Linked DNA regions of Homo sapiens: regions 2, 3, 4, 5 and 6 are each reported to be linked to region 1. Evidence: microRNA targets listed by miRTarBase, many of them from high-throughput screens and not tested one by one. Region 1 holds a microRNA gene; each other region holds the end of a gene's coding sequence.
The links. Region 1 holds the annotated microRNA hsa-miR-106b-5p (UAAAGUGCUGACAGUGCAGAU, at 2,812-2,832, opposite strand). A microRNA usually pairs through its seed, bases 2 to 8, with sites in the 3' UTR of a target mRNA and lowers its output. Matches are read on the target gene's strand: a 7mer-m8 pairs with bases 2 to 8, a 7mer-A1 pairs with bases 2 to 7 and ends in A, and an 8mer does both.

Region 2: the mRNA of ZNF514 is a reported target of hsa-miR-106b-5p. Seed matches in the 3' UTR shown: 7mer-m8 at 2,042-2,048, 7mer-A1 at 2,558-2,564, 7mer-A1 at 3,164-3,170 and 7mer-A1 at 3,704-3,710.
Region 3: the mRNA of ZBTB33 is a reported target of hsa-miR-106b-5p. Seed matches in the 3' UTR shown: 8mer at 901-908 and 7mer-A1 at 1,199-1,205.
Region 4: miRTarBase lists UGP2 as a target of hsa-miR-106b-5p. The part of its 3' UTR that is shown has no 7-base or 8-base seed match.
Region 5: miRTarBase lists WDR33 as a target of hsa-miR-106b-5p. The part of its 3' UTR that is shown has no 7-base or 8-base seed match.
Region 6: the mRNA of FAM199X is a reported target of hsa-miR-106b-5p. The part of its 3' UTR that is shown has no 7-base or 8-base seed match.

The regions. Positions count from the first base shown.
Region 1 is chr7:100,091,232-100,095,321 of GRCh38, forward strand. MIR106B (microRNA 106b) reads right to left here and starts at 2,843; the gene lies at 2,762-2,843. It overlaps COPS6 (COP9 signalosome subunit 6), which reads left to right. Exons shown (of 10, transcript NM_006833.5): 8 at 7-99; 9 at 189-289; 10 at 418-956. The coding sequence ends at 558. It overlaps MCM7 (minichromosome maintenance complex component 7), which reads right to left. Exons shown (of 15, transcript NM_005916.5): 13 at 2,942-3,110; 14 at 2,061-2,170; 15 at 1,497-1,902. The coding sequence ends at 1,701. It overlaps MIR25 (microRNA 25), which reads right to left and starts at 2,412; the gene lies at 2,329-2,412. It also overlaps MIR93. RefSeq lists an enhancer at 195-489.
Region 2 is chr2:95,145,857-95,149,946 of GRCh38, reverse strand. ZNF514 (zinc finger protein 514) reads left to right here. Exons shown (of 5, transcript NM_032788.3): 5 at 1-4,090. The coding sequence ends at 665. Among named protein-coding and RNA genes, the nearest start is that of ZNF514, 12 kb to the left of the region's middle.
Region 3 is chrX:120,254,900-120,258,989 of GRCh38, forward strand. It overlaps ZBTB33 (zinc finger and BTB domain containing 33), which reads left to right. Exons shown (of 3, transcript NM_001184742.2): 3 at 1-3,499. The coding sequence ends at 535. TMEM255A (transmembrane protein 255A) reads right to left here. Exons shown (of 9, transcript NM_001104544.3): 9 at 3,751-4,090. Among named protein-coding and RNA genes, the nearest start is that of ZBTB33, 6.1 kb to the left of the region's middle.
Region 4 is chr2:63,890,933-63,895,022 of GRCh38, forward strand. UGP2 (UDP-glucose pyrophosphorylase 2) reads left to right here. Exons shown (of 10, transcript NM_006759.4): 10 at 188-628. The coding sequence ends at 295. It overlaps VPS54 (VPS54 subunit of GARP complex), which reads right to left. Exons shown (of 23, transcript NM_016516.3): 23 at 1,218-2,603. The coding sequence ends at 2,498. Among named protein-coding and RNA genes, the nearest start is that of UGP2, 51 kb to the left of the region's middle.
Region 5 is chr2:127,702,843-127,706,932 of GRCh38, reverse strand. WDR33 (WD repeat domain 33) reads left to right here. Exons shown (of 22, transcript NM_018383.5): 22 at 381-4,090. The coding sequence ends at 610. It overlaps SFT2D3 (SFT2 domain containing 3), which reads right to left. Exons shown (of 1, transcript NM_032740.4): 1 at 1,691-4,090. Among named protein-coding and RNA genes, the nearest start is that of SFT2D3, 3.4 kb to the right of the region's middle.
Region 6 is chrX:104,189,133-104,193,222 of GRCh38, forward strand. It overlaps FAM199X (family with sequence similarity 199, X-linked), which reads left to right. Exons shown (of 6, transcript NM_207318.4): 6 at 476-4,090. The coding sequence ends at 646. Among named protein-coding and RNA genes, the nearest start is that of FAM199X, 25 kb to the left of the region's middle.

The sequences.
Region 1 (4,090 bases):
TTGCAGTGGCTGAACACCTGATAGCACAGCACAGCGCCATCAAGATGCTGCACAGCCGCGTCAAGCTCATCTTGGAGTACGTCAAGGCCTCTGAAGCGGGTAGGACAGGGGCTTCCCTGGCATTCTTCCTCTCCCTCCTGGGGAAGTGACAGCATCCAAACTAATGTAGTCTCTTTTTGTGCCTTTAGGAGAGGTCCCCTTTAATCATGAGATCCTGCGGGAGGCCTATGCTCTGTGTCACTGTCTCCCGGTGCTCAGCACAGACAAGTTCAAGACAGATTTTTATGATGTGAGTGTAAAACCCGGATGGGGAGGCGGGGCTTATGCTGTCACTTTCACGTGCAGGACTGGGGACTGTTGTTCCCCGGGCATGCCACGAGGGATCCCGAGGAACTGGTCCTTTCTGTTCCCTCCCAGCAATGCAACGACGTGGGGCTCATGGCCTACCTCGGCACCATCACCAAAACGTGCAACACCATGAACCAGTTTGTGAACAAGTTCAATGTCCTCTACGACCGACAAGGCATCGGCAGGAGAATGCGCGGGCTCTTTTTCTGATGAGGGTACTTGAAGGGCTGATGGACAGGGGTCAGGCAACTATCCCAAAGGGGAGGGCACTACACTTCCTTGAGAGAAACCGCTGTCATTAATAAAAGGGGAGCAGCCCCTGAGCACCCCTGCTGGTGGCTCTGTCCTCTGTTAGGCACCACACTGGTTGGTCAACTTGGATGTTCATCGAGGCTCATTCTGGCCTTGCTCAGAAGCCCTTCTGATGCTCTTCAGTGAGGGAGGCACTACCATTTGAAGTGACCCCATGTCAGTCACATGGACTGGTCTTTAGCAAAGTCCAAGGCTGCCTGCTTCCACCTAAGTGGTCTCTGTTCTACACTTTAATGTCACCCTCTACATCATCTTACCTAGCCCACCCAACCTTATAAACATGATAATTGACTACTTTCCTGAGCTAAATTAACTTGTTTTTCACATACGCAAAAAAGAAGGGATAGTAAGCAGATTTTTATTAGAAAGAAGTCCAAGCCTTGATCCTGTGGGCACTGTGAATTACCAGGAGGGAGAGTTTCTCAATGACCGTTTACTACATATTTTGGAGAGGCAGCTAGGAAGTGGTCTAAAGGTTGGGATTGCTGTATGTGATCACTTGTGCTGATTTTCATCACCCGCTAACCAGAGCTTTAGAGTGGGAGTTGGGAACTAAGTAATGACCTGTCTGCTAGAAAAGGGGAAAAACCAAGAGACCCTGCATTTCATACTGGCGCCATATCCCCAGAGCCTGACTTGCACACAGGCAGTATAAGACCAAATAAGGGAGTCGGGGGGCTCAAAAAGTGGAGCCCCATCTTAAGTATCTCCAAACAGCAGGGACCGCTTAGTCCTTGCCGCATCCCCAGTGTCTATACTGGGGGCCTGGCAGGGAGATGCACTTTACTCAGGTAATTTACTGAGTGGATGAAATAGCATAAAAACGAACAGGAATCTAAAAAACGCACAAAACCCTGTTTTAATGGAAGTCAGGCCCAGGCTAGAAGATGACAATCTACAAACACTTTTATTAGCAAAAGGAGTAAGTGCAGCATGGGAGAAAGAGGGGCTCCTCCTTCCCCTCAAAGGCATCACTGCCCCTTCCCAAGGGGCAGGCCAGCAGGGAACAAGAGGACCCCAGGGTTGCAAGCAGGCTGGAATCAGACAAAAGTGATCCGTGTCCGGGAAGCATTGACCTGCCAGACATTGAGCTCCTCATATTCATCCAGAGCCGCCTGGAACTGGGCGGGTGTGAAGCCACGAGATACACAGCGCTGCTCTGCCTCAGAGAACCGGACACTTCGGCCCCCTGAGACCAGTTCACGGACGGTGGCAAATATCACATCTGCTGGTCTCTGAGTCCTGAAGGAAATGAGTGGGTGTGTAAGGTCAGGATACAAACAGGAATGCTCGACATCAACAGAGAACAATGGTGGCCAGTGTTAGAATTGAGGCCAACCTCAGACACATGGCCACAGAAGACAAAGTGACACAGCTTTGTCCTTCACTAAACCACTCACCTAGCTGTCTGCCCCTTGTCTCCTAGAAGAGAGTCCTTTGACATCTCCATTAGCCTGATGGCTTCATTCACATCTTCTTTCTCCACCACATCCACCATTCTCAGACGTGCCTAAGGGGAAGGTAGGGGGGAAAGATGGGAACGGGAGGAGGGCAGTGGAACGAGGTCAGGGGACACCCTTGTTCTGGCTTTAAGGCTGGGCAGCCCATGGGTCGCCTACTCACAAAACAGGAGTGGAATCCCCCCTCCCCCCAGCATCCGCAGTGTTGGGCCGGCACTGTCAGACCGAGACAAGTGCAATGCCCAGGGCAGCGTCCAGCAATTGCCCAAGTCTCCGCCTCTCAACACTGGCCAGTCCCGGAGTTCAGCTGTCCTGTGAGGGAGACCAGACCCTTTTGAACGCCACTGGGCTCCCCAGCATGACAGATGGAGCTTGGGGAGCTCAGCCAAGAAGACAATTGGCAGAGAGAACGTGTCCCGGGGGCTCGGGAAGTGCTAGCTCAGCAGTAGGTTGGGTAATCACACTACCTGCACGAACAGCACTTTGGAGCCCCCAGGACTGAGGTCCAAGACGGGAGGACAGAAAGGAAGGTCTGTAGCACAGGATCTAGGACACATGGAGTGAAACAGACCCCAACCACCCTCTCAGTGAAGGTTAAGAAGTGGGGAAAAGGCCTTTCCCTCCACGGACGCTGTGCGTGCCCTGCTGGAGCAGCAAGTACCCACAGTGCGGTAGCACGGAGAGGACCACTATCTGCACTGTCAGCACTTTAGCCCCGGCAGGGCTGGAGCGGGAGGTGGGGAGGCGGCAATGAGAGCACGGTAAGGAGCTACCCCTTTAAGGGTCAAAACAGATGGCCCTCCAGCAATTTGGGCACTTACCAGAGCAGTGGAAAGGCGCAGGATAGCCAGCAGGGTCCGGGCAGAAGTATAGGTGGCATCCTTACTAGCCCAAGCCTCTCGCCTCATCTCCACGTATGCTGCTGTGATGTAGTCAGCCAGAGACTCTGGCACCATGGGCTGCTTCTCGCGGCACATGGCTATGTAACGCCTGTGGGGGAAGGTTCATGGGGAAGCAGAAGAGGGAGATGGGGAAGGGAGTGAATATGAGCCCATGTTGTTTTCTGTACCAGGGCTCCCCATTTAACATGGTCCCCTCCAAGAATTTTAAGTGGAAAACACAAATTAGTGGGTGATTATTTGCTTGGCTTGAATATCACTGATGGATTTCACCAAACGTATAGCCCCCACCAGTATCCTCCAAGTTATTTCCTATTTTTTTCGGGAAAATGGCCTTTGTAAGACAAATCCGTCTGTCATTAAGAGAGGATCCAGACCCCTCCTCTGAGCGCATGACATGGCAAAACATATATTTTATTTAAAGAGAACTGTTTACAGAATATTTAAAAGGGAGTAAAAACCGGAAAGAACACTGGAGGCTCATGGGAAAATAGCGATAGAGATTATCATCCAGAATGCCTGGGAGCAGGTGTTTTAAACTTTAAATTTTGGAGTATTTGCATATGCATGAGATAGCTTGGGGATGGGACTCCAGTCTAAACATGAAATTCACCTGTATTTCATATACAACTGATACACATAACCTGAAGGTAATTTTATTAAAAATATTTTTGTGGGCCAGGAGCAGTGGTTCATGCCTGTAATCCCAGCACTTTGGGAGGCAGAGGTGGGCATCCTGGCCAACATGGTGAAACTGCTCTCTACTAAAATACAAAAAATTAACCAGGCGTGGTGGCGTGCGCCTGTAATCCCAGCTACTCAGGAGGCTGAGGCAGGAGAATCGCTTGAATCTGGGAGGCAGAGGTTGCAGAGAGCTGAGATCACTACACTCCAGCCTGGGTGACAGAGCAAGACTTCGTCTCAAAAAAAATAAATAGTGTAGGAAACAAAATTTCCTGTGTCCCTATGATATGAAGTGTGGAATTTTCCACTTAAAAGCTGATCTGAGGCTCTGGACATGTCTGTAGCGGGAAGTGGTGGTGTGAAAAACACACACCCTAAGACTAATAA
Region 2 (4,090 bases), not on the chromosome of region 1:
AATGTGATACAGAATTCAGGCAGACTTTAGGGGGAAACAACTCTCAGAGAACCCACCCAGAAAAGAAATCTTGTAAATGTAATGAGTGTGGGAAGTCCTTTCACTTCCAGTCAGAACTTAGGCGCCATCAGCGATGTCACACTGGAGAAAAGCCGTATGAATGCAGTGACTGTGGAAGAGCCTTTGGTCATATTTCATCCCTTATTAAACATCAAAGAACTCATACTGGAGAAAAGCCCTATGAATGCAGTGAATGTGGGAGAGCCTTCAGCCAGAGTTCGTCTCTTGTTCTGCACTATAGATTTCACACTGGAGAGAAACCCTACAAATGTAATGAATGTGGACGAGCCTTTGGTCACACTTCATCCCTTATTAAGCATCAGAGGACTCATACTGGAGAAAAGCCCTATGAATGCCGGGAATGTGGGAGAACCTTCAGCCAGAGCTCATCACTCATTGTGCATTACAGATTTCATACTGGAGAGAAACCTTACAAATGTAATAAATGTGGGAGAGCCTTCAGCCAGAGTTCATCTCTCACTCAACATTACAGATTTCACACTGGAGAGAAACCCTACAAATGTAATGAGTGTGGAAGGGCCTTTGCTCATACTGCATCCCTTATTAAACATCAGAGAAGTCATGCTGGAAAAAAAACCCTATAAATTCAGTGAATATAGAAGGGCTTTCAGCTGGAGTGCAGACATCACTGGAACTTAAAGAATTCATATCAGAGAGAGATCCTAAAGGTGTAATGTATGTGGGAAGACCACATCTTGTTCCACATCAGGCAATAATTACTAAAGAGAATCCCTGTCAATGTCAAGAGGGGGTGGGCTTCCCCTCTCTTACCAAACATGGGAGAATCCATACTAGTGAGAAACCACGTGAATGTAATGAATGTGGGAACGCTTTGATCAGAGGATGCATATTATTCAGCATCAGACAGCCGACACTGGGGAGGAGCCTTATCAATGCAGTGAGTGTGGCAAGCCTTCAGTTACATACTGATTCTTTAAGAAAATCAGATAACTTGTACTGGAGAGAAATCCTACAAGTGTGGTAAGTATGGAAAAATCTTCAGTTGTATCTCTTCCTTTACTAAGCATCAAGAACACATACTAGAGAGAGGCCCTATGAAAGCAGGAAATAGAGGAAGGCCTTCAGTCAGGGCTCATCCCTTATTAAGCATCAGAAAATTCATACCTGAGAAAAACCTGTGAATGTGGGTAATGTGGGAGAGCCTTCAGCCAAACCTCATTGCTTTATAAACCCCTTAGAACTCTCCCTACTAGCTGGAAACTCTGGTGACGTGATGAATGTGGGAAGGGCTTTGGTGGATGTTCCACCAAAACACGTTAGAGAATTTGTACATTAGAGAATTTGTGCTAGAGCAACTCTTCAAATTTAGTGAAACTGGGAAAACCCATTAGTAGAGTTCAAGCTTCAGTATTCATCTCAAAGAGAAACCTTGGGAACATGATGAATGTGAGGAAAGTTCCTTTCCAACTTGAGATGTATAAAACTAGAGCTGAAAAGAAGCTGAGAAATCACCTTGTCTGGTGATTTTCTGCCTGGTGGGGCCATTTGTATAACGACACTTGTGCATTGCCTCCTCATGCTGTTACTGACGGGGCAGGGTGTCATGCATGGGTGCAGAGGATGGAGGCTGAGAAAGGTAGACAGCTACCCATGATCTAGCCCAGTCGTATTTTAGAGCTAATAAAACTGATGTTCAGAAAGTGACATGCCTTGGCCTATAGTCCTAACTGGGCTGGGCCTCTTTCCTGTGGTTCACAGCTGTAGTATGGAGATTAATAGACTGGATCTTTGCAGTACAACACCTCTATGCACTTCTTTCTCTGTAGCACATGTTACCTTTCTTTGTGAGGCAATGGAGTGGTCTAGGATTGAGCAAAAAGCAATTTTTGTTACATCTTTATGCTAATAGATTTGGAATTTTTGAAATGAAATGAAACCTTGTTTAAACATTAAAATTACTAAAATAGGCTGGGCGCGGTGGCTCACGCCTGTAACCTCAGCACTTTGGGAGGCCGAGGCGGACAGATCACGAGGTCAGGAGTTCGAGACCATCCTGGCTAACACAGTGAAACCCTGTCTCTCCTAAAAATACAAAAAAATTAGCCAGGCATGGTGGCGGGCGCCTGTAGTCCCAGCTACTTGGAAGGCTGAGACAGGAGAATGGCGTGAATCGGGGAGGCAGAGCTTGCAGTCAGCCGAGATCACGCCACTGCACTCCAGCCTGGGAGACAGAGTGAGACTCCGTCTCAGAAAAAAAAAAAAAAAACAACTAAAATATGGGTATTATGCACAATCCAGATCTCAAAAACGTGATTCTAAGTGAAAGAAGGCAGATGCCAGAGACCAGGTATTTTCTAGTACCATTTTAGGAAATGTCCAGAAATGGCAGATCTTCAGAAACAAAGTAACTGCAAATGTTACAAGGAATCTTTTTAGGGTGACGAAAATGTTCTAAAACTAGATGGTGGTGATGGTTGAACGATTTGGTAACTTCACTAAAAATCATTGAATTGTTCACTTTATATGGGCAGATTTTATGGTAAATATACCTCAATAAAATCATTTTTCAAAATCAAATTTACACATATACCAACCATTGCTAAACAAGTATTCCTGTTTTGTTTGTTACTTCAAGCCATCTATGCATTTTTGGTATCACTTTTTATTTTCTGTAACAGTTACCCCTACATTTACTGGGTCTCAGAACCTTGTCAGGCTCTGCTTTAAAGTTCCTACCATGTTGGCTCTGTAACTCAGGTGGAGAAGCCTAGACCAGGAGCTGGCGTAGACCAAAGGATACTTGCCTAATAAGGATTAGCTTATACTGAGGAAAATACTTTAAGCATTTAAAGTCCAGATGAGGAAGTTGAGCCCAGAATTCAGGGAACCAGCTCAAAGTGGGCCCATGCAGACAGGCTGGGTCTAAGAGTCCACAAGGTTGGCCAGGGCAGGTAGGATGCACAGGAGGCATCTGGATCTGGAAGTACTTGGACAGCTGAGGTCAAGATCACACAGAAATTTATTCCTGGACAGCCAAGGTTTACAGGAGCAGAAATAGCAAATATTTTCTTGCTCCGTCTCTCCCTTTTTTCCCAGTGCCCTTTTCTGTACCTACCCAGATCACTTTATACCTAGACATCTGTCACAATTTTGTAACTGGTCTTCGTCCAAAATCTGTCTCCTCTTCTCATGTATCCTTGCCATATTAACCATACTTACCAGTTTGAACCCAGTGTCCTGCCCTCCAAAAATCCTTTGCACGGCCTACAAGATAAATCCTCACCCCCCGTGTGTGGTATATAATGCCCTCTTTAGGCTGCTCCAACCTCCTGCTGCTCCTGACAGAAGCCTCCATTGCACACAAATGCTCTCTTGTCATCCCTCAGACATGCCTTTCCACATCTCAGCCTGCAAACCTTTACCTTAGCTGTTCTATCAGCCGGGGGCACCTTCTCTACTTACCTAAAGCCTACATAATCAGTCAGAAACCTGTGTAAATTTCCCTTCCTTGGAGAGGTGTTCTCTTGAAAACTGATATGAAGTCATATCTTACCATTTGTAATCATAAACATATTTGTTTGTGTAAGTTTTTAAAAATGGACAATATCTAGACTTGTGGTAAATCGTATCACTGTCTTGATCTATTTAAATAATTTTTTATCACTTTACCACTTTCTTGTTTCCTGAACCAGATGACAATGGAAAAAGTCAAATGGTAAAATATTTTAAGAGATTTATTCTGAGATAAATATGAGTGACCTGTAGGCACAGTTGACCAGCATTTGCCTTAAAACAGAGACCTTAAGACTAACAAAAACAGACTCTTTGTAGCAATAACAACATGACAGTAAGTCCTGAGAGAAATCAAAGTGTTTTACGCCAAAATAGATTTAAGTCTGATAAGAAACAAGTCTGACACAGCCCCAGGAGATCCTGAGAACATGTGCCCAAGGTGGCTCTTGTCAGGAGCAGCAGCAGGTTGGGGCAGCCTAAAGAGGACATTACCAAACACGGGAGTGAGGATTTATCTTGTAGGAAGTGCAAAGGA
Region 3 (4,090 bases), not on the chromosome of region 1:
CTGTATTGTATGCAAAAGGTCATATGTCTGTCTGACAAGCTTGCGGAGACATTTTAACATTCATTCTTGGGAGAAGAAGTATCCGTGCCGTTACTGTGAGAAGGTATTTCCTCTTGCAGAATATCGCACAAAGCATGAAATTCATCACACAGGGGAGCGAAGGTATCAGTGTTTGGCCTGTGGCAAATCTTTCATCAACTATCAGTTTATGTCTTCACATATAAAGTCAGTTCATAGTCAAGATCCTTCTGGGGACTCAAAGCTTTATCGTTTACATCCATGCAGGTCTTTACAAATCAGACAATATGCATATCTTTCCGATAGATCAAGCACTATTCCTGCAATGAAGGATGATGGTATTGGGTATAAGGTTGACACTGGAAAAGAACCTCCAGTAGGGACCACTACATCTACTCAGAACAAGCCAATGACCTGGGAAGATATTTTTATTCAGCAGGAAAATGATTCAATTTTTAAACAAAATGTAACAGATGGCAGTACTGAGTTTGAATTTATAATACCAGAGTCTTACTAAACTCCTTTGAAATACTAGAAAGTTTTGTTTTGGATGATGGGGCAGGGGTTTCAGAAGATCTGTAAAACAAATTAAGGTGCGAACAAGTTAATTTGATCTGCCACATTATCTGAAGGAAGTGTAGTGGGATTTTTGTTGATAATTTTTAGAAGCAAATTTTCCTGAAAGTTTTGAGTAGAGGTGAGACCCCCTCCCCAAGTATCTGTTTATATAGTTAGTTTTCAGCTCATTTAAAAGAGGCAAAAATTAAAAGCTTGGAGAGATAGTTTCCTGAATAGAATTTGAAGCAGTCTGAATGTTCTTTGAAAATAACTGGAGTTATTAGCATACCCTAGTACATCTTACAGCTTTCCCCTTCCATGTTAGCACTTTACTGCTGAATTCTCAATTTTCTTAACATTGAGACAATAAATGTGTGTTTTGTCTTGTATATGGCATAAAGAGTAAATAAGTTTTAGAGTTGTTCTGGAAAATGTCAGAATAAGTCAGTACTTGGGTTGTGTAATCTGCTAGTCCAAGCGAACAGCAACCTCCTGCTACCCTCCCTCTATGAAAATAGCCATGCAGACAAGTCTCTCATCTGAAGAACAAATTAGATTTAGCTAATTAGAATTAATCCTGGCTTTCATTGCCATAGTCTGTAAAAGACTTTGGTGGCTAGACCACTTTATACCTTCGCAGTGTGGTCTCTGGGGGCAAAAAACTAATGAAAACAATCTCTGTAATGGCAGATAGGAGGAGATGAAAAGTTCTGTTGCATGGATTTTTAATTCTCTGGCTACCACATAGTAGAGAATGGAATGAAGATTTCCTTTTGGCTTCTTAAGGTTAAAAATATTCCCATGAACATGAAAATTTTCAAATTTTGAATCTGAAAGCCACCAAATGTATCTTTATGTATAAATCCTTGTAAATGATAGATTCCATGGGTGAGACTTTACATATTTTGGGTGGGAGGCTACTGGCATATATTTTTAAATGTTCATATTGCGTAGAATCTCCACTAGGAAGTCTTTATTTGAAATAGTTGAATCAGTGATCTAGTATTTTCCTTTCGGCAAGATTTGTTAGGTTTTTACCCCTTCTAAAATAAGTTTTATTCCATCTGCAAATTGCTGCAATATTATAGTAATCAGAAACTACATAAGGAATGTTATATAGGCTTGTCAGTTCCCATTTTTCTTGACAACAATAAATACCACTTTTAAAAATGACACATATTTAAACACTTAGAAAATAAAGTTAACACTTACTGAAGTGCTAGTACTAAACTGTGCTAGTACTAAAAGAAAACAGGTTGGAACATACATATAGCCTAGCATTTATAACAGAATTGTTGAACGTCTGTAAATGATTTTTTTTTTTTTTGCAAAGGAAAAAATTGATACTGGAAAAGATTGTTGTGCATAGTTATTAGTCATTTGTAACCTTGCTTAAGTATTTCTTAGTCCAACATAGATATTTTCTTTCTCCTGACCATGTATTTTAAAATATAGTCTATTTCTTGACTTTGAACTTAAAGCTTTAATCATAATTTCTCATGTATACATCGTTCTTCTGATGGTAAGCTGGATTTGAAGGTAGTGGTTTCAGTGTTTCTTAAGTTGGTAGCTGAGGGTATCAGGCATCAGTTCATGCAATAATACAAGAAAAAAAATCCTTTGCTTGCCAAGAGGTAGAGTGATGTGCATTTATCTGTTTTCTGTTCTGTAAGTCTAGACCTTCAAACCATTTGTAAACTAACCCCTGGGAAATTTGAAATTACCTGATAACTTAAGACTCTGTGATCTCTGGAATCACCATATGTTTCTTTTTTGTGTAGATATTAATAACATTACTCTTTGACTATAGTGTGCACTCTGAAATGTACTCAGTGAAAATTTGTTTTGAGTTTCATTAATGCTATTTCACCAGTTAGACATAATTACTTCTACCGATGTGAATGATACGGATGCCGGCAGAGCTTCCAGATCTTTCAGACTCAACTGCTAGGTCAATTAGTTTGTCATAATAAAACTTGGCAGATTCTACAAGTCTATTATGACAAACCAGGAACTAATTCTATAATGGAAAACTATCCATTCTGAATAATAGGTATGTAATTATTTGCTGCTGCTGCTGTGCTCTGTAAATTCTGAATATGACATTTAAACTCTGTGCCTACTAAAGGTATCTTCTGGAGTTTTTGGGAGGAGAGAAACTGGAAAATTAAATTGTATTTTTGCCAGAAGACTCTTACTTGCATGTGTCTCAGGGTCTTCAGTTTTTCTATAAGTTTCCATATCCAAAGTTCAGAATTCATGTGAAATACTTCTTTGGGGCAAAAGTCCTTCATTCCTGGTATTTATTGGATTGGAAATCTGTAGCAAGATGCTGTTTAAAATTACCATATTGTTTTTTTATCTTATACTTAGCTCTCTGGCTATTGAACTTCCTTTTCTTGTTTGAAGTTAGCTTCAAATTTGCTCCTATGCTAAATTACCTGTAAATATTCTGGATAGGAACTACTTGAAATAGTAATTTGTTAAAAGATATGACAAAATGAAAATGCTTAAACTACAGAAATTTAAAAATGCCATAACAATCTTGCGAGACTAACTTTAAAATATACTTTAAATGATTATTATGATTTTGGTGGTAACGATCCCCCACACACAACCACTATGAAGAAATAATGCCGCATTTTTCCCCCATTGTACCAAAAAGATAAAAAAATGGTAAACACTGATCAAGGTATTTTGTATTGTCAAGGCATGCATATTCTAAAGAATTAAATGCTAACTTAACAGCACTGGCTTTCTGGCTGGTCAACTATATGAAACCTTGTTCATTCCTCCGAGTACTGTAATGTTCACACTTGTACAATCTTCCCTGTCATGACTTTAAGTTCTACTTTTCATTAACCATGGCCTGATATTAGTTCTTAGAGCTTCTTGTGGCAAAAATAAAATGATTTAATTCTGATGTTTGAGTGCGTGTTTTACAAGATTGTCTTTCAGAAATTATATGGGTTTTTATATTGTTTTTCAATTTTTATAGCAGGAGACTGGGGCTGTATTTCTGATGACAGCACGGCAAAATTTCCCACTAGGTTTTATATGTTGGTTAAAAATGTCCCCTTTTATCTTGAACCCTAATAGTCAAAAGTGAGTCAGCTGCTGTCAGTTGCTTTAGAGCGTTTGCTGTACTTTTATAGCTACCTTGACACAAGTGGATAACGAGGGGAGGATAGTTTTATTCATTTGAAACATCACAAAAGCAGTCTGAGTTTTCAACATGGCAGTGATACAGATTTTAAGCAACATCCAGTTTATACAGTTTCTGGATTAATATTTTAATGTTTCATGCCCAGTTCAGTACTTTAAAGCAGAATTAGGAATAAAGCAGTAAATATTACAAAATGCAGTCAAGATACATATTGGAAATACAAATCCATTCATTACAGCAAATGTTTTGCAAAAGAGTAAAGCAGCAAATATTAATTTTTCTAAGGTAACATGCACTTTGTATAATTCAATGTAATAAAAAAGCTGCTCAAATTAAGTGTTACAAAAT
Region 4 (4,090 bases), not on the chromosome of region 1:
AGGATTGTTACAGAAGGACACATTACAATTTTCCTTAACTGTTATTTGTTTTTCATGTTTAATATTGTTTATAAAAAAAGTTACTTCACTGTAAAAAAAAAAAAGTTGTACATAAACTTGATCACTGTAAGATAATCAAATTGCATTTCAGTTGCAAGTACACTCTTTTGTTTTCCCTGTCACTTAGGGAACGGTTATCATCATTGCAAATCATGGTGACAGAATTGATATCCCACCTGGAGCAGTATTAGAGAACAAGATTGTGTCTGGAAACCTTCGCATCTTGGACCACTGAAATGAAAAATACTGTGGACACTTAAATAATGGGCTAGTTTCTTACAATGAAATGTTCTCTAGGATTCTAAAATAGGCAGGTACTTTACTATGTTACTGTACCCTGCAGTGTTGATTTTTAAAATAGAGTTTTCTGCAGTATGCTTTTAGTCTAAGAAAAGCACAGATGGAGCAATACTTTCCTTCTTTGAAGAGAATCCCAAAAGTTAGTTCATCTTAAAGTGCAATATTGTTTAATCTTAAAACTGGGCAACTTTGGAAGAACTTTTAACAGAAGCCTCAATGATGATCACTTTGAATTGCTTGTGATTTCAAAAATAAAGCAGTGAAGCAATACTTGTGTACACTGGTACTTTATAATGCTAACTATAAACTGGTTTATTGTTGTTAGACAGTTACTATATTAGTTGGAAGATTTGCCCTTTAAGTACACACTGGCTAGTTACCTAGCCAGTGTGTACTTAATGAGTCCAGTTTTTGGCATTTCTAAGAATCTTAATCATACCATTATTTCCACAGGAATTAAACTGAAGGTATTTTCTTTAGTACCTACCTTTCATCTAGTTCTAAAACTGGGATGCCTGCCATGCTTTCCACAAACTCTCCATTTATTGAAACAAAGTGGCATTTATTTTCCCAGCTGACGGGGGTGGGCAAAGGGAAGGCATTTCTTCACATCCTTGTACTCTTCTATAGTGAGGTAGGGGGTATAGCTTCATAAAAAGTTCCCTTTCCCTGAAGCTTCATTTCCTGAAGCTTGTTTATTATCACTGAAAAAATGATCATTAATAATCTTTCCATTCAGGTCTGCTGGTAGTTCAATTTATGCCTTTTCTTTAAATTCATCCATACTTGTTTTGAGTAGGCTGCTTGTTTAAAGTTCACAATATACCACTTAAAAAAAAGTTGCCTTTTAAAGTCTGTTAATTTTTTACAGCTTTATTTTAGACAGATAGTTTAAGAACCAAAGACATACCTCTGTAATGATAAAGGAAAGAAAACAAGCTTTCCTTTTAAGAAACCAAAGAGCACAAAATAAGACTGTTTCATTATACATAATCACCACAGGATATTAGGCACTCTGACAGGGTTAGGCAAGATTCTTGGTGTGAGGTGAAGCACAGGCACTTTATTTGTACAGTGCTGCTGATTCTAATTTTGAAGGTAGGTATTATAAAAGTCTTTACTTGTCACCTTATTTCTGGCCCCAACACAGCAGCCTATAGTTTTAAAAGTTCTGTTTCTCCCTGGTCTTTGTTCGTATACACATCGAAAGTAACTTAAAAACAAGGATCCAAGGGGGCCATACTTCATATGTTATCTAAATGTTAATATGAGAACTCAAAAGTAGGCAGATTATATGAATACATATTCTTACCTCTGCTACAAATAAAAACACCCCAAACCCTTCATCATACTTTTATAAAAATACAGATATTAAACTGTAGCCTTTTATATACCATTTCTGAAAAGTATTTAGTTGCATAAATAGATGCCAGGATCTTTTTTTTTAAGTATTAATTACTTAAAAAAAGGCTTAAGTCTTTCAGGTATTTAGAGAGCTCTGGAAGGCTTTACCCAGTTGACATACGGTGGTAGTAGAAATATTAAATATGCAACACACAAAGCCTGCAACTTGACATTGGTCACTGAAACAAAAATTGAATTCCTAAATCCAAGCAATCAAAAGATGTTTATTTTTTATAGAAAGATCTGTAAAAAAATAATAATTTTTCAAACAGCTTTACTTTCATAGAGAAAACTTTCTACAGAAGTTGACTAAGATTTTAAATTGTACCATCATTAAATAAGGTGGGACACCATATGAATTTCATTGCACTGGAAGAAATGCAAAGCATTTTTTAATATAAAGTATACAGAGCATTCTAGTCAACTACAGCTGTGTTACAGCTATGTGTTCTTTTGGATTTGGTCCAAAGAAACCTGAGTCTGTTTCCAGAGAGAATGAAAAATGTTATAGACACCTGATCAGTTACTCCTCACTGTAGGATGCACAAAAATGACATTCCTTGTAGATCCCACTGAATCCAGTTTCCCAACACTTGATACTTTCCTTTTTCCCTTCCCCCACCCCAGTTCACTTTGGGTTTCAGGTTCAATTCTCGAATCACAGGCATCCAGATTTTCTTCATAACAAACACATCCCATGGTCAGATGAACTACCCAGTTTTCCAGGATGACATCACCTCTTCTGCTCCCAAATTTCGGCCATATTTAGGTCCAAATCTTTAAGGCCTTTTAAGGCTTGAAGATTTCCAGTGTAAAAAGCTACATCTGCTGTGACCAACCTAAATAATGGAGAGAAAATTATTTTTTAAATCTCAAACTTTCTATTCAGATAATTAAAGTAACAGTGCTCACCGAGTCAGAGTCCTATTATCTAAAATTCAGATTTCTTAGTGCCCAAGTGTCCAAATACTTTACTTAGCAGGATTCCTGCTATGAATAAGTAGGCCATTTAATGCTGTACTTCAATAATAAATATTTGGAAAATGAATAAACCAATGGCTGTTAGAGTCAGTTTCATGATAAATTCAGCCCAAGAAAATCAGATTTATCTTGAAACAGCATGAATTAATATACAGAGAAAATAACAGGCTAAACTAAAATGTTTTTGATTGGTTAGCACTAGAGTATGGGAGTGCTGACTAAAATAGTAAACTCAAGGGAAAAGCAGGCTAGGTTTCTAAGTGTCATCTAAGGCGTTAAATACAGACTAGTATTCATGTATATAAGCGATACTGGATATTTCTTTAAAAACCCAAGAGAAAAATAGGAAAGAACATAAGAAGTCACAGATGAAAACACCTGAATAACCAATAAACTGAAAAAATGGTAAACGTCAGGAAAATGCAAATCAAAACAAGGTACTACTATCCCCCATCAGACTAGCAACAATTAGGAAATCTAACAGCAAATGTTGAAAAGATGTGGGAAACAAATTCTCACAAACTACTCCACTAATGTGGGAGTTGGTACAGCCACTGTCAATACCTAACAATATGAAAAGTGTATTAGCTCCAATTCACTTATAGGTATATGCCCTGAAGAAATGGTCACACCATTAGACATGTATAAAGATCTTCAGTATGGCATGGTTATAATGGAAAAAAGTAATGACTTAGCAATTTATCACTAGGGGAAATGTCTAATTTATCTATGGCTGATTCATGGCCAGGAGCAGTGGCTCACACCTGTAATCCCAGCACTTGGGGAGGCTGAGGCAGGAGGATCACCTGAGCTCAGGAGTTTAAGACCAGCCTGGGCAACATAGTGAGACCTCGTCTCTACAAAAAATTAAAAAAATTAGCTGGGTGTGGTGCCACACACCTGTAGTCGCAGTTATTGGGGAGTCTGCAGTGGGAGGATTGCTTGAGCCACGGAGGTTGAGGCTGCAGTGAGCCATGATCACACCACTGCCCTCCAGCCTGTGTGACCATGAGACCCTGTCTCCAAAAAAAAAAAAAAGGTTGTTTGATGGAATACTGTACAGCAGTCAAAAACAGACTACTAAACATATATCAACATAGATAAATCAGTAAAAATGCCTAGTAGAAAGCAAGCTGCATATATGCAATATACCATATAAGTAAATTTACAAAACAGCACTACATATTTTTCATAAATCTAGGTACAATAAATAAGACTAAAAGAATGTAGACTAAATTCACTGGAAATGTTACCTAAAGGCTGGGAGAAAAAGGGAATCGGACTGCAGATGGGGTGTAAAGGTGTACTTAGCTTCATCTGGAATGCAATTTTTTGAATACCATTT
Region 5 (4,090 bases), not on the chromosome of region 1:
TATATTCAAACCTTCCCTCAATATACCCTGGTGGCTGGGAGCAGGCAGATACACTTCCCATGGCCTGGGACATGGCCCAGTGTGGCCCGGGTCTCCCTGAAGGTGCTCCTTGCTCATCTCTTGGCTTCCTGTCGTCTGTCACACAGCCCTGGGGGCATGGATCTGGCTGATGCTGAGGCCCATGGCCATGAGCCAGGAAGGGGGAGGCAGGGTCAGGAAAGGGTAGAGGCACACCTCTCAGTACGCTGAATACCACTGCCAGTCTCCCTGGCACCCACCAGAACTGGTCCATTGTCATCAGAGAGTAAAGTTTGTACTGGGAGTTACTGACAAACAGTTGCTAATACAAAAAGTCCCATGTGAAATTTTCTTTGTTTCAGGCCGAGGGGGCCCAGGACCTGCTCAGAGAGTGCCCAAATCTGGGCGTTCCAGCTCCTTAGACGGAGAGCACCACGATGGATACCACAGAGATGAACCTTTTGGGGGCCCTCCAGGCAGTGGCACCCCTTCTCGAGGGGGCCGGAGTGGCAGTAACTGGGGTAGAGGGAGTAACATGAACTCTGGCCCGCCGAGGCGAGGAGCTTCACGGGGTGGTGGAAGGGGTCGGTAGAAGCTGGAACTGAGTACCCTGAGGCCTCTCTGGACAGTATGTAAGAACTTCTTGTGGACTCACCAAGAGAAACAAAAGGAAGCCTGCACCATTGTAGCCCTGAACTCTTTTCTGGGCACCTGAATCCCAGGAACCCTCAATGAGGTCTTCAAGATGAAGAGACTGCTGCCAGCTACCAGCCTGGCTGGCCCTGTCCTGTCCACCCTCATTGCCCCAACTCCCATGTTGTTTTGTGAAGATAAAAGCTGGGATCTTTTTCTTTTTTTTAAGTCTCACAAGACATGGGGCATCTCCACAAATTTAAGTTCCTGTCCATTTGGAAATTTGTTTCTATGTGTACAGTTTGTCAGAGAAAAACAAAGTTTTTGTATGAATACAGAATGTGATTTACGCAAGAATTGACAGAAAACTAGTTGTGAAGTGCTTGCCTTAAGGAAACCTTTGGTTTCCATCGCATCCCATCTGCCAAGGAATGCACGGTTGTTGCTGATGTTCATGAGCATATTAACCACTAGGTTATCTAAATTAATCTCAGCTGTGAACTTTGTGTTTTTCAACACATTCTGTCACACCATTTTTGTGACAGAAAAATACTTGAAAATTATTCTAATGTAGTTTGTAGTAGGTTCAAATTTTTATTCAGACATGCTCTGACAGATGGAAAATTGTACTCTGAAGAGAAAATGCAATCTTCTGGATGTCCAACGAGGGAGCTTCCCCTTGGAAGCATCTCCTAAGAATCACAGTTTAGGTTTGAATCGCCTTGTTATGATGAGGAGAGGAACTTGATGTTAGTCAGAAATAAAGTCACATGCCCTTTAGATAACTTGAAATCACACATGGAGTTGATAAGGAATGGACCAAAATAGGTCCTCAAACAATTTTGCAACACTTAATTAAGTTTTCCTCTCTTCCTCTTCCATACTATGTGGAAATACCAGTGTTACGGCAGGGCGTACTTCTAACTCACAGTAAGCCAGATAGATCTTGTCCATGGCAAATTCCTTGTTTAAAATAAACATACCATTTAGCCCAGTTTGGATTGGAAGCCAAAAATTCAGTTTGTTATATACCCCATGATACTTTCTATACTGACCTTTATTTTGGTTTTACATGGAAGCTTTTATTAAAAGGACTGTCCTATGGCCACCTTAACATTTCATTACATTGGCAGCTTCAGTTTTGGCATCAGTCAAATTTATTTGGCAAATTTAGTGGTGCTGGAAGTTTCTTTTTTTCTTTTCCTTTTTTGACAGAGTCTTGCTCTGTCACCCAGCCAGGAGTGCAGTGGTGCAATCACGGCTCACTTCAGCTTTGACCCTGCCTCAGCCTCCCTAGTAGCTAGGACTACAGGCATATGCCACCATGCCCAGCTAATTTTTTGTGTGTGTGTTTTTTGTAGAGATGGAGTTTCACCACTTTGTCTATGCTGGTTTCAAACTCCTGGGCTCAAGCGGTCCACCTGCTGTGGCCTCCCAAAGTGCTGGGATTGCAGATCTGAGCCACAGTACCTGGCCGCTGGTGCTGGAAGTTTCAATGGTTGCTTAGAAAAGGCATACTGATATAGTTTAACAGGATATGAAAATTTAACTGGTTCTCTATGAATGTAAAAAACAGCAAAAGCTAATTGATTTCTGTGGAGTGAGAAAATGTCAGCCATATACACTGCTTTTCAGTGTTAGAATCTAGAGACTATTTTTTTTTTAACTTTGAAATTACAGCTTATTTAATCAGCGCTCCACCATAAACATGCTATTAGGAGGCTCAAGATTGCTTTAGGTTATGGGTATTTCTTCACTCACCCCCAACTGGTATAGCTTAAAGAGAGAGAAACTGTAATCAAATTTCATGAAGCTAAAACCGGATCCAGAGACCAAACCCATATCAAGATTAGACTTTTTTTCCCTGAGATTCTAGTGGAAAAATTTTCATTATTTTGGGCTTTAACTTTAGAAACATAGTATCTCAGTAAGCAGATAACCAGATCACATTTAAAAATTTTCATTTTACCTTGAAGCTCTACTGGACTTGACAGATCACATTTTGAGAGTGAATTCATTTAAACAATAAACCTCTACATTATACTTATTAAATATATATGGCATTTAAAAACATCACTGTCAGCATACATACTAGATGTTGTGATTTGAAGCTTATAAAAAGTAGATTTTCAATGATGTTTGATTTGAGAAAAAATTTTTGAGACAAGGTCTCGCTGTTGCCTAGGCTGTGGTGCAGTGGTGTGATCACAGTTCACTGCAGCCTCAACCTCCTGGGCTCAAGTGATCTTCCCACCTCAGCCCCACCCCAAGTAGCTGGGATCACAGTTGTGTGCCACCATATCTGGCAAATTTTTTGAAGATTTTCTGTGGCGATGGGGTTTAACTGTGTTGCCCAGGCTGGTCTTGAACTCCTGGCCTCAAGTGATCCTCCCGCCTTGGCCTCCCAAAATGCTGGGATTACAGGTGTGAGCCACCAGCTGAGAAATGTTGAATTTTTAAGTTTTTATTTAAGAAATAAACATTGTAAAACATCATTATAAAACCCCCAACTATTGCAAGTTCTAGAGAAATTTAAAACTAGAACAGAAATTTAGGGGACTAGAAAGAGCAGCCAATGGCACAAGTCTTTACAATTAATTAAAAAAATAAATCATTCTGAAGATACTGCATTTGCTCTCTCACAAGCAGCCTCCTGAGGTAGGTAACCTTGTTTACTGATGGGGAACAAGGCAGTGTTCTTTACCAAATCTCAGGGCGGGTAGCCTGCAAGCCTACAGTGTGGATGTTGGCCACTTGTGTCACTTCTTGGGACGGGGCTTAGGGACCTGACTTACTTAGGAACATAAATTTTGGGGTTGGAGGAAGCAGCAGTGCTCTACTGCGGCACGACAGACACCCTGTTAAGGCAACACTGGGATCCAGCTCAGGAAAAGCATTACTTTCAAATTGTGCAAGCCAATGCACAGAAAAGTGGTCCTCAAACTTGGGGAACGTAGAATCACTTGGGGAGCTTTAAAAAGGTCCTGATGTCTGGGACCTACTTCCCAGGTTCTGACTGCATTGATCTGAGGTGTGGCTCTTCAAGTAACTGATGTGCAGTCAAGCGCGAGGACCACTGGCACACAATGTTTAAATTCTAAATATATTTTACTTCCTAGTGTATTGCTACTGACAAAACGTAGTTTTCTGGACTCATCAGAATGTTAGGCTCATACCTTCTGGCAATAAATTAAGGTAGTTAAAAGTAACTGCTGAACCTAAAATGAAGGCAGCAGCAATTAGATATAAAAAAATCTTAAGATCAGCCTGCAAATTGTAAACTAGTTTACAAAGCAGGCTATACAATGAGGAATAATTCGAGCTTGTAGAAATCCATGGTTTCCACCAGATACAGGTATTCCGGATCTAGAATTATCTTTCTATTTGCAGGATTTCCGAAGAGACCGTTAAGCATCTACGCGCCCCTTCCTGGATCCCA
Region 6 (4,090 bases), not on the chromosome of region 1:
CGCCTACTACAAAAAAGGCATGATTTTTTTTTTACCTGCCATTGTAAGATTGCTAGTGTTTTTGGATGAAAGGCACCTGAGAATCATAAGTATTAGAGATTTGGGCAATGTTCTCCACAGGTGTATTCAGTATTGTCGCCTAGTATTAATTATGTGTTCATTATGCATTTGTACCAATGTACCTTAATGGAATTTAAAAAAGAAGTCTTTGAAGTGACTTTTTATCTATCACTAGCCAAAATGATCGTCTCAACTCTTCCTAATCAGAAGAGTCACTGGTCAAATACCACAAAATTGGAATCTTAATCATTTTTAAGCCTAAGCCAGTGGCTCACTTATTGGAACAAGGATCATACTACAGAAGGATTTGAACAGCTCTTAAAGTTAGAAAATAGAGAATTTGATCCACAAAACATTTTGGGGTGGATATGCCAAAAACTAAACCAAACTGATTTAGAAATTTTTATTTTGACAGAAGCGATCCAAGCAGCGGAAGTTACAGCAGAAGGCCTTCCGCAAGAGGCAGCTGAAGGAGCAGAGGCAGGCCCGGAAGGAGAGGCTCAGTGGGCTCTTCCTTAACGAAGAGGTGCTGTCCTTGAAAGTGACTGAGGAAGACCATGAAGCAGATGTTGATGTTTTGATGTAATAAGGGTGAATTTATCAACGTTCTTTGTGAGCATTAAAATACTCCATCCTTATGGGTTTACATGCATCTTGACCAAAATTTTGGTTAGGGCTGTGCTGATGTACCATTAATAATTTAAGCCAGTGGTTCTTGGCAGGTGATCCCAAGACCTGCAGCTTCAGCATCACTTGAGAAGTTGTTAGGAATGCATACTAGTGGGCCCCGCCCCCAGACATAGTGAATCAGAAACCAACAGGGAGGCGCCTAGCATTGTTTTTTTAACAAGTGCTGGGTTATTCTGATGCACAGTCTAGTTTAAGAACCACTACTTTGGGTAAACGTTTTGACTGTTTAAAGTTTATGGCGGTGAAGTGGGCGTCTTCAAAGACTAGTACTTACACAGTTTAGAAGATTTCAAGGTACTGCTGACAGTAGTTTATTATGTCAGTATACATACATGTGTAGAGATCATAATTTAGTTCCCTTCTTAATGTTACAATTTCTTAGTTTACTTTTCCTAAAGGGCCATAGCATAATTCTTGATTCCTGGTGGAAATCTTTTCTGAGGTGTGGGGGTGGGCAAGGTGTGGATTGCTGTTTACGATAGTGCCTTCATTAGTTTTAGTTCTGTCTGTTTTCATTCATTATTGACTCAAAGGTATTAGAACAGGCCCTTATCTTTTTCCTATTAGATTTATTTTTGTTTTTTACTTTATGTAAGTTCAGAATCCTTTTTTAAGTGATGACTACTGATGAAATAATGTTACTAGTAGCTGAATTTTAGACTTGATGCTATGTTGATTAATATTTAAATGGTGAAAGTAATTAGGCAAAATAAGCAATTCTGCTTTTCTGTTGCTTTCAGAATTTTTAGGCTGTAAAATTGTCTCAGGCAGGAAGTCAGTCTATATCTCTCTCAAGTTCTTATTGTAGGTCATTTTTTTTTCAGCACAGCTCTAATTTTTAAATATTTGGTATAACAGCTTCTGGCATGTGACCTAGTTAATGTTGAAAATTAACTGATGAAAACCCTTGTAGATCTGCTAAACTTCTCTATAAATTGCTAGAAATATACAGAGCAATGAGATATAGAAAACACCTTAGCTTGTTGGTTATTAATAGAGCTCTAATTTTAACTGTGAAATCATGGAGTTTCTTTAAATGTTTTCCTAGAGTGTTTGTTATCATGAACATTAGAAATAGCATTATTCCTTTTCTTCTACCACATGTCTTGAACATTCACATGGGTTAAAGAAGATGGAAACTGATACTACTGACAATCAAGCTGCTTTCTGACTTTCATAATTTTCTTTATATTGTGGATAGCATTTTGAAGGTGACCGTGATTCTGTAGGAAGAGCTGTAATCAATATTTTTCAAACTCTAAGAGTACAGAGGTTAGTAAGATTTCTTTTTTTTTTACTTTTTGTTACGTCAAGTAGCTTATTAAGAAAAAGATTCATGACTTAAATTCTTAATTCTCAGTTGATACAAAGGCTTATAATCATGTGTTTTAAAATTTTGATTTCATTTTCGTTCCTTGAAGGTTAAAGAATGGAAACTGGGGATAAAAATTAATACACTGCAGCTTTGCCAAGGTCTGTGATATGGTTGTAACCTTTTAAAGACTACTAAAGTCATAATTTGAAATTTTTACTAAAATAAAACATATGTGTCTATGGTTTTCAATTGGAGTAGTCTTTCTTACTTTCCCCCTTCCCCTCTTTGGTTCTCCTAACCAGCTTAGAGGACCCAAAGAGAGCTTAGGGATAGACACCAGAATACTCTGTGGAGGTGGAACAACTTAACCTCACTGTTTTCCCTTCCAAGTATAGGAAGAGCAAATAGAGCATAGTAACTGTATCTAAATTCTCTACCTGCTCTTAGCAAAAGCAAAATCCCACAGAATGATTGCCTGCTGTCTTTACCTATTCTTCAAGGAAAACAGGCCACTTTTGGAGACCATAGAGCACCATTTATCTGTCAAATACTTGGAAACTATTTACTTAACGGTCATCAGTAAAAAACCCTAAACAAGGTCATGATATAATTTAAGACCAATTCCCCTACTCTCCCAATAATCACATAGTCTTATTACTTTCAATTTAACTTGAGTCACTATTAAGCAAGTTTACCAAAGTGCCACAAAGTTGATTTTTAACGTTTGTAAAGGTTTGAATGTTTATAGAAGTGCATCATGAAATTTTGTGTAAATCCAGATGAACTGTCATTATAGTACTATAAATTAGAGATAGTCCATAAAGTTGGGTTGAAGGAGATTGAAAATATTTCCTTTGATTAAAAGAAAATAATTAACTAACTTGGGCTTGCTTGTGATTGAAGAGGGAGATTAGATAGTCCTCTGTCCCCCCAAAAAAGAAACTAGCAGAGAAAGACATAAAAAGCTCTTTGGTGTCTGTTCATGTGCTGTACATTTTTTCCGTTTTAATGTCTTGTGTAGATAATTCAAAGTTTGAACTATTTCTTTCTTGGAATAAGTAATAATTTATTCAATATGGTGTATCTCTGAGTTCAATTTAAAACAATCCAACTCAGTAATATTTATTTTTAAATACAAATCCTAACTAACCAATTAATTAATAAAAAGGCAAGACTTACTTGCTGTAGTATTGGTTCTCATCTGTAGAGAACTGACATTGGAGCAAATTTTAAGTCTCCCCTTTGAAAATAAGCCTTGTTAACTGAGGGCGTAATACATTTCCCACAGATTTATCCAGAAACATTTTATTAGAGATCTTATAGTAGTATCTCAGTTCCTACTACAGCTTTCTAAAGGATGAGACTTGCATTTAACAAAATGACATATATAATATTTTTCTATAGTTTTGCAACTGAATTAAAGGAAGGTGATGTATTATAATGTGTAGTGAGGTATAAAGGGCTAGTTCATTCTCTCCCAACAAGAACTTAGAATAAAATAACACTTTTTTTTCATGAGACTTACCTCATTTTTGTTAGGCTATGGCAGTTTTGTCCAGTTCCTCTGTCCCTTGAGTGAATTAGATATTGGTGAATTAATCTCAGAAACTGACCTATAAAATAATGACTCATTATAGATTGGGTGAACTTCTCATTTTATTTAGCTTTTAAAAGTGCTAAATCCTCTCATAAAGGAAAAATTATAGGAAACTATAGCGGTATCCAGATTCTGATGAGCTTTAAAAATTATAAAATATAGCAAATGTCTTCATATTTTAGCCAGAAATATTAGTACACAACCAATATAGAAGTCTTGTTTGTTTCTGGGTTCTCCAGCAGAGACTTTTTGTTTGTGGCTTACTCTGTATAGCCTCATGTGCCTTAAAGGTGGTGAACTCTAGTTTTTGTCAATATCAGGCTTTTCAAAACTCAAAAACAATCCAAATGTTGTAATTTGTTTTGCATAATGCCCATGGAATTGGATATCAGTAAGCAAAGCCATTAAATCGAACCAATCAATGCTAA